2 separate regions of the Homo sapiens genome follow, and region 2 is linked to region 1. The links come from fine-mapping of genetic effects on plasma protein levels. A gene starts in region 1. The other region holds a variant in brackets. All regions are shown on one strand. Distances are between the middles of the regions.

Region 1 (5,382 bases):
AATGAAAAGCACTTTATATTTCATTCCCAATTCAAAAGGACTTCTTAAGAAGTTAAGAAGTATGGTATAATTGTTTTCTAAAATCTTGATGCAAAGTAAGAGTATCAAGGGAGTGTTTCATAGGATATGAAATTGGACACCTACTTTTATTGGGTACAGGGCTACCGTTGGGGTAAGATACCTTTGTCTAGCTTATGAGCTTAGGGAATTTGTAGCTATTTTCCACTATTGTTTGTTCATATTATGAATAAAAACATAAGGTTATTATAATGTTATTTTCAGTTATCACTTACCAGCCCATCTTCTCCTGGTCCTGGGAAGGTTACAGCAAGATCATGACCATTCTCATCTAAAGCTTTTATTTCAATGCCTAAGTTGGATTCAGGTTGTTTGAGCCAATTTTGCAACACTGTCTTCACATCAATGCTCTGCCAAATACCAGTGCCTGGGTTCATGTCAAGTTTCAGAGATCGGATTCCAGTATACCTTGTACCGTCTTTCATAGGTTTGATGAGTCTCAGGATTTGCACAAACACTGTTGTAGGAGTCTCGACGGGTCTCAAATATATCCATAGTTGGGCCTTTACTACTTTATTGTATTGTATTTTAGAGCTAAATTTAAAGAAGCAACATTTGGGTTTTCCATCCACTTGCATTAGAAAATCAGCTATAAATGAATAAGAAAAGAAAAGTTGCTGAAATTATTTCCCATTAACAAAACCCCTCCATATTAATAGTTGAGCATTTTTTTAAATTAAGATAATGTATGCCTATGCAGTCTTTTAAAATGAAATACCGTGTGGAACTTTATAACTCAAAAAAATGTCAAAGAAAATAATTACCCTAGCTTTTCAGAATTTTTCAGACGTATGTATTTTCAGCTGTTCATCAGGAATCTATTCCCCTTCCAGAGAACTATGGACAAAGGAAGGTTCTATGAAGTAATGAACGCTGAATGAAATTTTAAAATGATGATGATTAGAGAGAACAAGAGACACTGTGGAGGAACAACCACTTAGAATTCTTTGGGAATCTGAGTAGTTACACTTACTGAGCAGCTGTACCAATCAGTCTGGAAGAAGGAACCCTTCCCCCAGGCCTGAATTACCTGGGGACAAGACACACTGAGCAACTTACTGAGCCTCAGGAATTAGTAGAAAACACAGTACATCTGTTACATTTTGGCTTTGGAATAACCTTTTAAAGGAGCAAAACTAAGCAGATAATTAACACAAAAATTTTGATGTTATATTCAGGCTATCTGAAAAGTTCGAAAGTATTGTCTTTAGGGCCAGGCTGTCATGTAAGCACAAGCACTAACAATTTCTTTTATTTTGGTTTTCCAAAATTGTCTATAAAAGGTAAATCTGCTCCAGACCTATTTGATAGCAGAGTCTTAAATGGAAATTCTTTGCTGCATTGTAACCTGATTACTTAATAAGGGAAATAATATTTTAAAACTGTTTGGAGTCTTGTTTAAAGTATATAAAGCATTGTATTAAAGCAAGATAACAGGTAACACAAAATTTTTCTTGCCATGCCTTCTCTGTCAAGGTGCCTGTTTCTCTTTCCTGGAGAAAGTATTCTTTTGAGCTGACTGCAAAAGGAATTGTATGAAATATGTTATCTGTCAGAAGCAGTGTAGATACTACAGGTAAAAGCCCTCCCTCTCAGGAAGAATAAAATATTTTAGAAGGTTATTAAGCACTGTGCCTGCTTGGAAGTACACAAACTGGGTACTCTCAATAATAGTACTATGGTCAAGGTACAAGGAGGACTTTGTGAGCCATAACCTACCCAATTAAAATGTTTATTTCTTAGGCATTTTCTAATATTTAGTTCATGATGATTATTATGCTATGTTTACTTCATTATTGTTCTTACTAACACATTAAGATATTTAATTTTTGCATATTCTTCAGTGTAATAGCTCTCAAAATTAAATTTTTAACTGTGAAGAACAAAAAAATTACTGAGAGAGTTTCAAATAACAGAAATCACTTGAGGTTTTCAGCAGTGCTCAAGTAAGCTTAAACATCCAGCAAGTTTCTTTTTTTTTTTCTGTTATTAGTGAAAAAAACTTATTTTACACAACTAAATACAATTCTAAAATCTAATGTAAGTTTTAAACACTGCTTGTAGTATCTCCCAGTCCTTGCCTTGGTGGTATTATTGTGAAAGCATAAGCATGCTATCTATATTTGCCTTATTAAATTAATGCTATGCAAGTACTTTATTTTTTAGTTTTTTGTCTCTATAAGAAAACAAATAATGCAGCAGATTTTTGTCTCATTAATATATTCTCATGCAATCTTGAAAAAGAGAAACTCTTTTCCTTTCTACTTACATACAGGCCAACAGCTTGTTTAAAAGAGCCTGAAAATAGATCTGTTTCTCATAAACACTAGAACAACAGTCAGCAGAACTGTTGATATACACTAATAGGACTACTTACACTCTGTAGGCATGGTAATGATTGTTTCCGTTGTAGCGTGATAATCGTCATCTTCCAAAGAGCCATCGCTGCTGTCATCCCTCTGGACATCATACTGATCAATCAGTTCCCGGAGTGGAGGAGCTTTGGGTAAAAGTTGTCTTATAACATCTTTGCTGATGTTAGGAGCTGTTTCCAGACGAAGTTTACTGAGGATTTGTATCTTAATGGCTTCTATTCTTGAAGATTTAGTGTTTTGTCTCCAAGTACATGCATTACACAGCCCCTCTTTTTCCACATTTTCTTTTTGCTCACTGTTCTCATTTAGATCCACTGGACCAGCAACAATCAGCATAAACAGGTAAATATAAACACAGAGTTGCAGTTTTTGCATGATTTTAAAATCAATATAATCTTTTTTCTTGTTCTTGTTTCTTCCTTTTACTTTTCTTTTGCTTTTGAGTAATGCCAAGCAAAATTTTAATGCATGTACAGTCTGAGAGACAACTTGCCACACCAGTGAATCTTTTATACTGTATTCCAAGTGGCTTTTTATATTCCAACTTAGATGAGACAAGTGTCGTCAGGATCTATGATTGGCTCTTGCTCCACAATGAATCTCGCTGTCAGAGGTTAAAACCCTGTCTGTCCCAAGTCACCAAGCAGTATTTTGTTACAGTCAAGGGTGAGCTGATTCATTTGACTACTTCATAAAAGAAATAAATCTACAAATAATAAAAGATATTTGTGACATTTGAAAAACAAAAGTCTATGTTGGCAATAATATAAACTGTACTTAAATCTTACTAATCCTCACACAACTCTTATTGTAATTTAAATAAGTCAATTTTAATTTATACTACATATTTAAAATATGAAATATTACTTCCTCAAAAACTAAAATGATTTTATATTGTTTAGGCAAGTATTTGAAGTAGAAAATATTTTTATTTGTTGTATTAAATTATTTTTAGTGCCAAGTAATTAGGAAAATAAAAATTAGGAAGACCTGAATTAAAAGTTAAGATTATGATACTAGTTGAGAATTTTCATCTATAATTTGAGAAACTTGTTTTCTGACTAAATTCTTAGTAAATATTGGAAGTCATTGTTATTATAACATATTGTGCATGGAATTATTTTTACATAGTTTCATGTCTTTTATTAATATGAAAATTATACTGAACTTTTGACTGAGTGCTATTATTTCCTATTCTAAAGATGCAGATTAACATAACTCAGAAGATGTGTTTTTCATTGTTTATTACCAAGAGGGTAATGCCAGCTAGTAGAAAAATCTCTGAACATAGACTAAGATAATGAATTTTATAACTGGCATGGCAGAGATTATTACAGTTTGCCTCAGATTTCCAGCAGTAAATATCCAGAGAGTAAAAAGTGCAGTATCTATTCTCTATAAATTATATCAGAATATTATGAGCACATAAAAGAGAAAGAGCATCATGATAAAGGGGTGACCTTTTGTTGTTTCCCAATACTGCGATATGTTTGCACCCCTTTGCCAATTTCTCATTTTGACCAGAGGGCAGACACCTGGCAGGGATTTGGGGTAAAGTCTGGGAGCAGAGAATAGAGCTTTTTGTTCTCTAAATTTAAGTGGCCTCTGTAGGGATCAAACGTTCAACCTTAGCTTTGGGAGCCACAAGATCTAGTCAAATGAACTATTAAAGAGCTAAGCAAACATAGCCAGCAAGAAACAGAAGATATTTCTAGGCCAAAGGAGATTTCTTTTTCCTACTCCTTTTTGGGAAGCTAAGGATTCCTAAGAGATTTAGTCCATTACTTTTTTTTTCCAAGAGAATACAGTGGCTCATATCAAATATTTATTTTTAAAGTCACTACCATTTTTGCACACTGTACACTAATTTACTGCCTCGGTGCACTAAAATGCAACTCAGTAGCCTGAAAAGTTAATGCATTTTCATCAAATTCTTAAGAGGTATCTACATCTCTTGAGAAAAAAATGGCCTTACATAATGCATTGGATTTGCTCATCATTAAAGATTAAGGAAAACCAGACACAAACCAGATGCCCTGAGGATTTCAGATACTCTTTGTTATGGGACAATATTAGATCTGGCTTCTAAGGTTTTATTTGTTTGGTAAATTCATTTTTCAATGTGTAAATCTTTCAAATGTTATGATCATTGTAACACATGCATCTATACAGTTCCAAGTAAGTCAAACTTTTTTTTTAATATGCTTAGAATTGTATAGCAGTTGAATTGAGAACTCAGGCTCTGGAGTCAGATAGACCTGAGTTCAAATCTCAACTTTGCCACTTCTAACTATGTGATAATGGATGAGATACTTAACTTCCCTAAACTTTAGCTTCCTCATAGGGTTTTGGGGGGATATAATTTAATAATGCATGTAAATTGCTGAATATGGCACCTGTCATATAGTAAGTAATTGATAACTGGCATTTGAGTGCTTGCTCTTTGTTTTATGCAGAAGGGTTTGAGATTATGCTTAAAATTATGCTCCACATGAACTAGAACTGCTTCAGGTCATAGCTGCCAATTATCAGTCACAAAGCCTACTTTCTAGGCCTGTGAGGCAAGTAAAATTTTCTAAGGCAGCCAGGTTACAAGACATGTTCCAGCTCTTTATTCTTATCACCTGGAAAAAAGTGAACAAAGGTTGTCATTTCCGCTAACAGACAATTCTTATTATTCATGATTTCTGTATTCACAAATTTGCCTACTTGCTAAAATTTATCTATGAAACTCAATATTCCTAGCATTTTTCAGTCATTCGCTGGCATTCACAGAGCGGCAAAAAATTTGAGTCCTATCTGACGCACAGGTTCCCAGATGAGGTCAAACAAGGCAGGGTTCCGCCTTTTTGTTTCAGCTCTCATACTATAAACAAATTCCCTTTTTCCCGTCTATTTAGTGCCATGTTTTCACATATTTTGTGCTTCT
Region 2 (5,382 bases), 87 kb before region 1:
TGCTTGTGATTTTTGCACATTGATTTTGTATCCTGAGACCTTGCTAAAGTTGCTTATCAGCTTAAGGAGATTTGGGGCTGAGATGATGGGCTTTTCTAAATATACAATCATGTCATCTGCAAACAGGGACAATTTGACTTCCTCTTTTCCTAATTGAATATCCTTTATTTCTTTCTCTTGCCTGATTGCCCTGGCCAGAACTTCCAACACTATGTTGAATAGGAGTGGTGAGAGAGGGCATCCCTGTCTTGTGCTAGTTTTCAAAGGGAATGCTTCCAGTTTTTGCCCATTCAGTATGATATTGGCTGTGGGTTTGTCATAAATAGCTCTTATTATTTTGAGATACATCCCATCAATACCTAATTTATTGAGAGTTTTTAGCATAAAGGGCTGTTGAATTTTGTCAAAGGCCTTTTCTGCATCTATTGAGATAATCATGTGTTTTTTTGTCTTTAGTTCTGTTTATATGCTGGATTATGTTTATTGATTTGTGTATGTTGAACCAGCCTTCCATCCCAGGGATGAAGGCCACTTGATCATGGTGGATAAACTTTTTGATGTGCTGCTGGATTCGGTTTGCCAGTATTTTATTGAGGATTTTTGCATCTATGTTCATCAGGGATATTGGTCTAAAATTCTCTTTTTTGGTTGTGTCTCTGCCAGGCTTTGGTATCAGGATGATGCTGGCCTCATAAAATGAGTTAGGGAGGATTCCCTCTTTTTCTATTGATTGGAATAGTTTCAGAAGGAGTGGTACCAGTTCCTCCTTGTACCTCTGGTAGAATTTGGCTGTGAATCCATCTGGTCCTGGACTTTTTTTGGTTGGTAGGCTATTAAGTATTGCCTCAATTTCAGAGCCTGTTATTGGTTATTCAGGGATTCAACTTCTTCCTGGTTTAGTCTTGGGAGGTTGTATGTGTCCAGGAATTTATCCCTTTCTTCTAGATTTTCTAGTTTATTTGCATAGAGGTGTCTATATTATTCTCTGATGGTAGTTTGTATTTCTTTGGGATTGGTGGTGATATCCCCTTTATCATTTTTTATTGCATCTATTTGACTCCTCTCTCTTTTCTTATTAGTCTTGCTAGCAGTCTATCAATTTTGTTGATCTTTTCAAAAAACCAACTCCTGGATTCATTGATTTTTTGAAGGTTTTTTTGTGTCTCTATTTCCTTCAGTTCTGCTCTGATCTTAGTTATTTCTTGCCTTCTGCTAGCTTTTGAATTTGTTTCTTCTTGCTTCTCTAGTTCTTTTAATTGTGATGTTAGGGTGTCAATTTTAGATCTTTCCTGCTTTCTCTTGTGGGCATTTAGTGCTATAAATTTCCCTCTACACACTGCTTTAAATGTGTCCCAGAGATTCTGGTATGTTGTGTCTTTGTTCTCGTTGGTTTCAAAGAACATCTTTATCTCTGCCCTCATTTCGTTATGACCCAGTAGTCATCCAGGAGCAGGTTGTTCAGTTTCCATGTAGTTGAACGGTTTTGAGTGAGTTTCTTAATCCTGAGTTCTAGTTTGATTGCACTGTGATCTGAGAGACAGTTTGTTATAATTTCTGTTCTTTTACATTTGCTGAGGAGTGCTTTACTTCCAACTATGTGGTCAATTTTGGAATAAGTGTGATGTGGTGCTAAGAAGAATGTATATTCTGTTGATTTGGGGTGGAGAGTTCTGTAGCAGTCTATGAGGTCTGCTTGGTGCAGAGCTATGTTCAATTCCTGGATATCCTTTTTAACTTTCTGTTTCGTTGATCTGTCTAATGTTAGCAGTGGGGTGTTAAAGTCTCCCATTATTATTGTGTGGGAGTCTAAGTCTCTTTGGTCTCTAGGTCTCTAAGGACTTGCTTTATGAATCTGGGTGCTCCTGTATTGGGTGCATGCATATTTAGGATAGTTCTTCTTGTTGCATTGATCTCTTTACCATTATGTAATGGTGTTCTTTGTCTCTTTTGATCTTTGTTGGTTTAAAGTCTGTTTTATCAGAGACTAAGATTGCAACCCCTGCCTTTTTTTGTTTTCCATTTGCTTGGTAGATCTTCCTCCATCCCTTTATTTTGAGCCTATGTGTATCTCTGCACGTGAGATGAGTCTCCTGAATACAGCACACTGATGGGTCTTGACTCTTTATCCAATTTGCCAGTCTGTGTCTTTTAATTGGAGCATTTAGCCCATTTACATTTAAAGTTAATATTGTTGTGTGTGAATTTGATCCTGTCATTATGATATTAGCTGGTTATTTTGCTCGTTAGTAGATGCAGTTTCTTCCTAGCACTGATGGTCTTTACAATTTGGCATGTTTTTGCAGTGGCTGGTACCAGTTGTTCCTTTCCGTGTTTAGTTCTTCCTTCAGGAACTTTTGTAGGGCAGGCCTGGTGGTGAAAAAATCTCTCAGCATTTGCTTGTGTGTAAAGGATTTTATTTCTCCTTCACTTATGAAGCTTAGTTTGGCTGGATATGAAATTCTGGGTTGAAAATTCTTTTCTTTAAGAATGTTGAATATTGGCCCCCACTCTCTTCTGGCTTGTAGAGTTTCTGCTGAGAGATCCCCTGTTAGTCTGATGGGCTTCCCTTTGTGGGTAACCCGACCTTTCTCTCTGGCTGCCCTTAAC[G/A]TTTTTTCCTTCATTTCAACTTTGGTGAATCTGACAATTATGTGTCTTGGAGTTGCTCTTCTCGAGGAGTATCTTTGTGGCGTTCTCTGTATTTCCTGAATTTGAATGTTGGCCTGCCTTACTAGGTTGGGGAAGTTCTCCTGGATGATATCCTGCAGAGTGTTTTCCAACTTGGTTCCATCCTCCCCATCACTTTCAGGTACACCAATCAGGTGTAGATTTGGTCTTTTCACATAGTCCCATATATCTTGGAAGCTTTGTTCATTTCTTTTTACTCTTTTTTTTCTCTAGACTTCTCTTCTCGCTTCATTTCACTCATTTGATCTTCAGTCACTGATACCCTTTCTTCCAGTTGATCGAATCGGCTACTGAAGCTTGTGCATTCGTCAAGTAGTTCTCGTGCCATGGTTTTCAGCTCCATCAGGTCATTTAAGGACTTCTGTACACTGGTTATTCTAGTTAGCCATTCGTCTAATCTTTTTTCAAGGTTTTTAGCTTCTTTGTGTTGGGTTCAGACTTCCTCCTTTAGCTCAGAGAAGTTTGATCGTCTGAAGCCCTCTTCTCTCAACTAGTCAGTCATTCTCCGTCCAGCTTTGTTCCATTGCTGGTGAGAAGCGGCGTTCCTTGGAGGGGGAGAGGTGCTCTGATTTTTAGAATTTCAGCTTCCTGCTCTGTTTTTTCCCCATCTTTGTGGTTTTATCTACCTTTGGTTTTTGATGATGGTGACGTACAGATGGGGTTTTGGTGTGGATGTCCTTTCTGTTTGTTAGTTTTCCTTCTAACAGTCAGGATCCTCCACTGCAGGCCTGTTGGAGTATGCTGGAGGTCCACTCCAGACCCTGTTTGCCTGAGTATCGGCAGCAGAGGCTGCAGAACAGCGAATATTGCTGAACAGCAAATGTTGCTGCCTGATCATTCCTCTGAAAGCTTCGTCTCAGGGGGGTACCAGCCATGTGAGGTGTTAGTCTGCCCCTACTGGGGGGTGCCTCCCAATTAGGCTCTTCAGGGGTCAGGGACCCACTTGAGGAGGCAGTCTGACCATTCTCAGATCTCCAGCTGCGTGCTGGGAGAACCACTACTCTCTTCAAAGCTGTCAGACAGGGACATTTAAGTCTGCAGAGGTTTCTGCTGCCTTTTGTTTGGCCATCTCCTGCCCCCTGAGGTGGAGTCTACAGAGGCAGGCAGGCCTCCTTGAGCTGCGGTGGGTTCCACCCAGTTCGAGCTTCCTGGCTGCTTTGTTTACCTACTCAAGCCTCAGCAATGGCGGGCGCCCCTCCCCCAGCCTCGCTGCTGCCTTGCAGTTCAATTTCAGTCTGCTGTGCTAGCAATTAGTGAGGCTCTGTGGGCTTCGGACACTCTGAGCCAGGTGCGGAATATAATCTCCTGGTGTGCCGTTTACTAAGATTGTTGGAAAAGCGCAGTATTAGGGTGGGAGTGACCCAATTTTCCCGGTGCCGTCTGTCACAGCTTCCCTTGGCTAGGAAAGGGAATTCCCTGACCCTTTGTGCTTCCTGGGTGAGGCGATGCCTTGCCCTGCTTTGGCTCACACTCGGTGGGCTGCACCCACTGTCCTGCACCCACTGTCCAACAAGCCCCAGTGAGATGAAGCTGCTACCCCAGTTGGAAATGCAGAAATCACCCGTCCTCTGCATCGCTCACGCTGGGAGCTGTAGACTGAAGCTGTTCCTATTTGGCCATCTTGGAACTGCCCCCAACCATTTGGTTTTCTTCCTTGATAAATTGCTTTTTATCCCACATTAGTATTTCATCTTCAAAAGTAGACTGAAAGGCTAGTACAAATTTGTTCATTTAATTAGCAAATAGTTCCTGAGTGCCTTCTATATGTCAGTCACTGTGCTGAATATATAATGTAAGTAACATAGCCACTCTCCTTGCCCTAATAGAGCTTACAAAGTGAGTTACTTTTTTTCTTTTTCATCTTATGGTGTTGAAATATAATTGAATATTTTCCTTTAGACAAACTCAGTTTGATAACCATCACTTTCATTCAAATATCTACTTTTGGCTCCAGGCATCCAGTAGGGTTTCCTAGAATAAAGTCACCTCAGACTGATATTACAATTTCAAATATTGAATGCTGTTCTTGAAAATGATGTTTTTCTAAAAAATGGTGTCTGATATGCCTATTAGGCACCCAAAGAGATAAGCAGTTGACCACTCAGGTCTGGATTTAGAAGATAAATTTAATTTAATTTTGGTAGTCACATGTTTCTAAATGATATTTAAAACTATAAAACAAGATGTAACTGCTGGAGTGGTGTAGGTAGAGAATAAAAGAGGTCTTGGACTGAATCTTGGGGTACTTGAACATTTTGAAGTTGTGGAGATATTAAAAAAGAGAGTTGACAAGCTAAGGGTTATGGAAACACATACACATATTTACAAAGTCCTTGACTTACAATGATTTGAATTACAAATTTTCAACTTTTGCCATAACAGTACACATTCAGTAGAAACCATACTGCTAGTCTTCATACAACCATTCTGTTTTTCACTTTCAGTACAATATTCAATAAATTACATAAGCTGTTCAACACTTTATTATAAAATAGGTTTTGTGTTAGAAGATTTTGCCTAATCATAGCCTGATTTAAGTGTTCTGATCATGTTTAAGGTGGGCTAGGCTAAGCTATCCTATTTGATAGGTTAAGCATATTAAATGCATTTAAAAAATACACTCAGAGGTACATGTGCTGGTTTGTTACACGGGTGTATGGTGTAATGCTTGGGGTTTGGGCTTCTAGTGAACCCATC

Alleles and levels. Alleles are on the strand shown, and positions count from the first base shown. The strength of an association depends on the size of the effect and on how common the allele is.
As copies of G replace A in region 2, the plasma level of the protein whose gene starts at base 2,961 in region 1 goes down (weak association).

Evidence for each region. PIP is the chance, under the fine-mapping model, that this variant and not a neighbour inherited with it causes the effect. The UK Biobank Pharma Proteomics Project read protein levels with antibody pairs (Olink). The fine-mapping took linkage between variants from a reference panel, not from the people measured, so its PIPs are less certain.
Region 2: its variant is fine-mapped to the plasma level of the MSTN protein (UK Biobank, PIP 0.95).

The regions. Positions count from the first base shown.
Region 1 is chr2:190,059,769-190,065,150 of GRCh38, forward strand. MSTN (myostatin) reads right to left here and starts at 2,961. Exons shown (of 3, transcript NM_005259.3): 1 at 2,456-2,961; 2 at 294-667. The coding sequence starts at 2,828. It also overlaps a transcript of AKAP19 not described here.
Region 2 is chr2:189,972,806-189,978,187 of GRCh38, forward strand. It overlaps a transcript of AKAP19 not described here. Among named protein-coding and RNA genes, the nearest start is that of MSTN, 87 kb to the right of the region's middle. The variant G/A (reference allele first, on the strand shown) is at 2,608.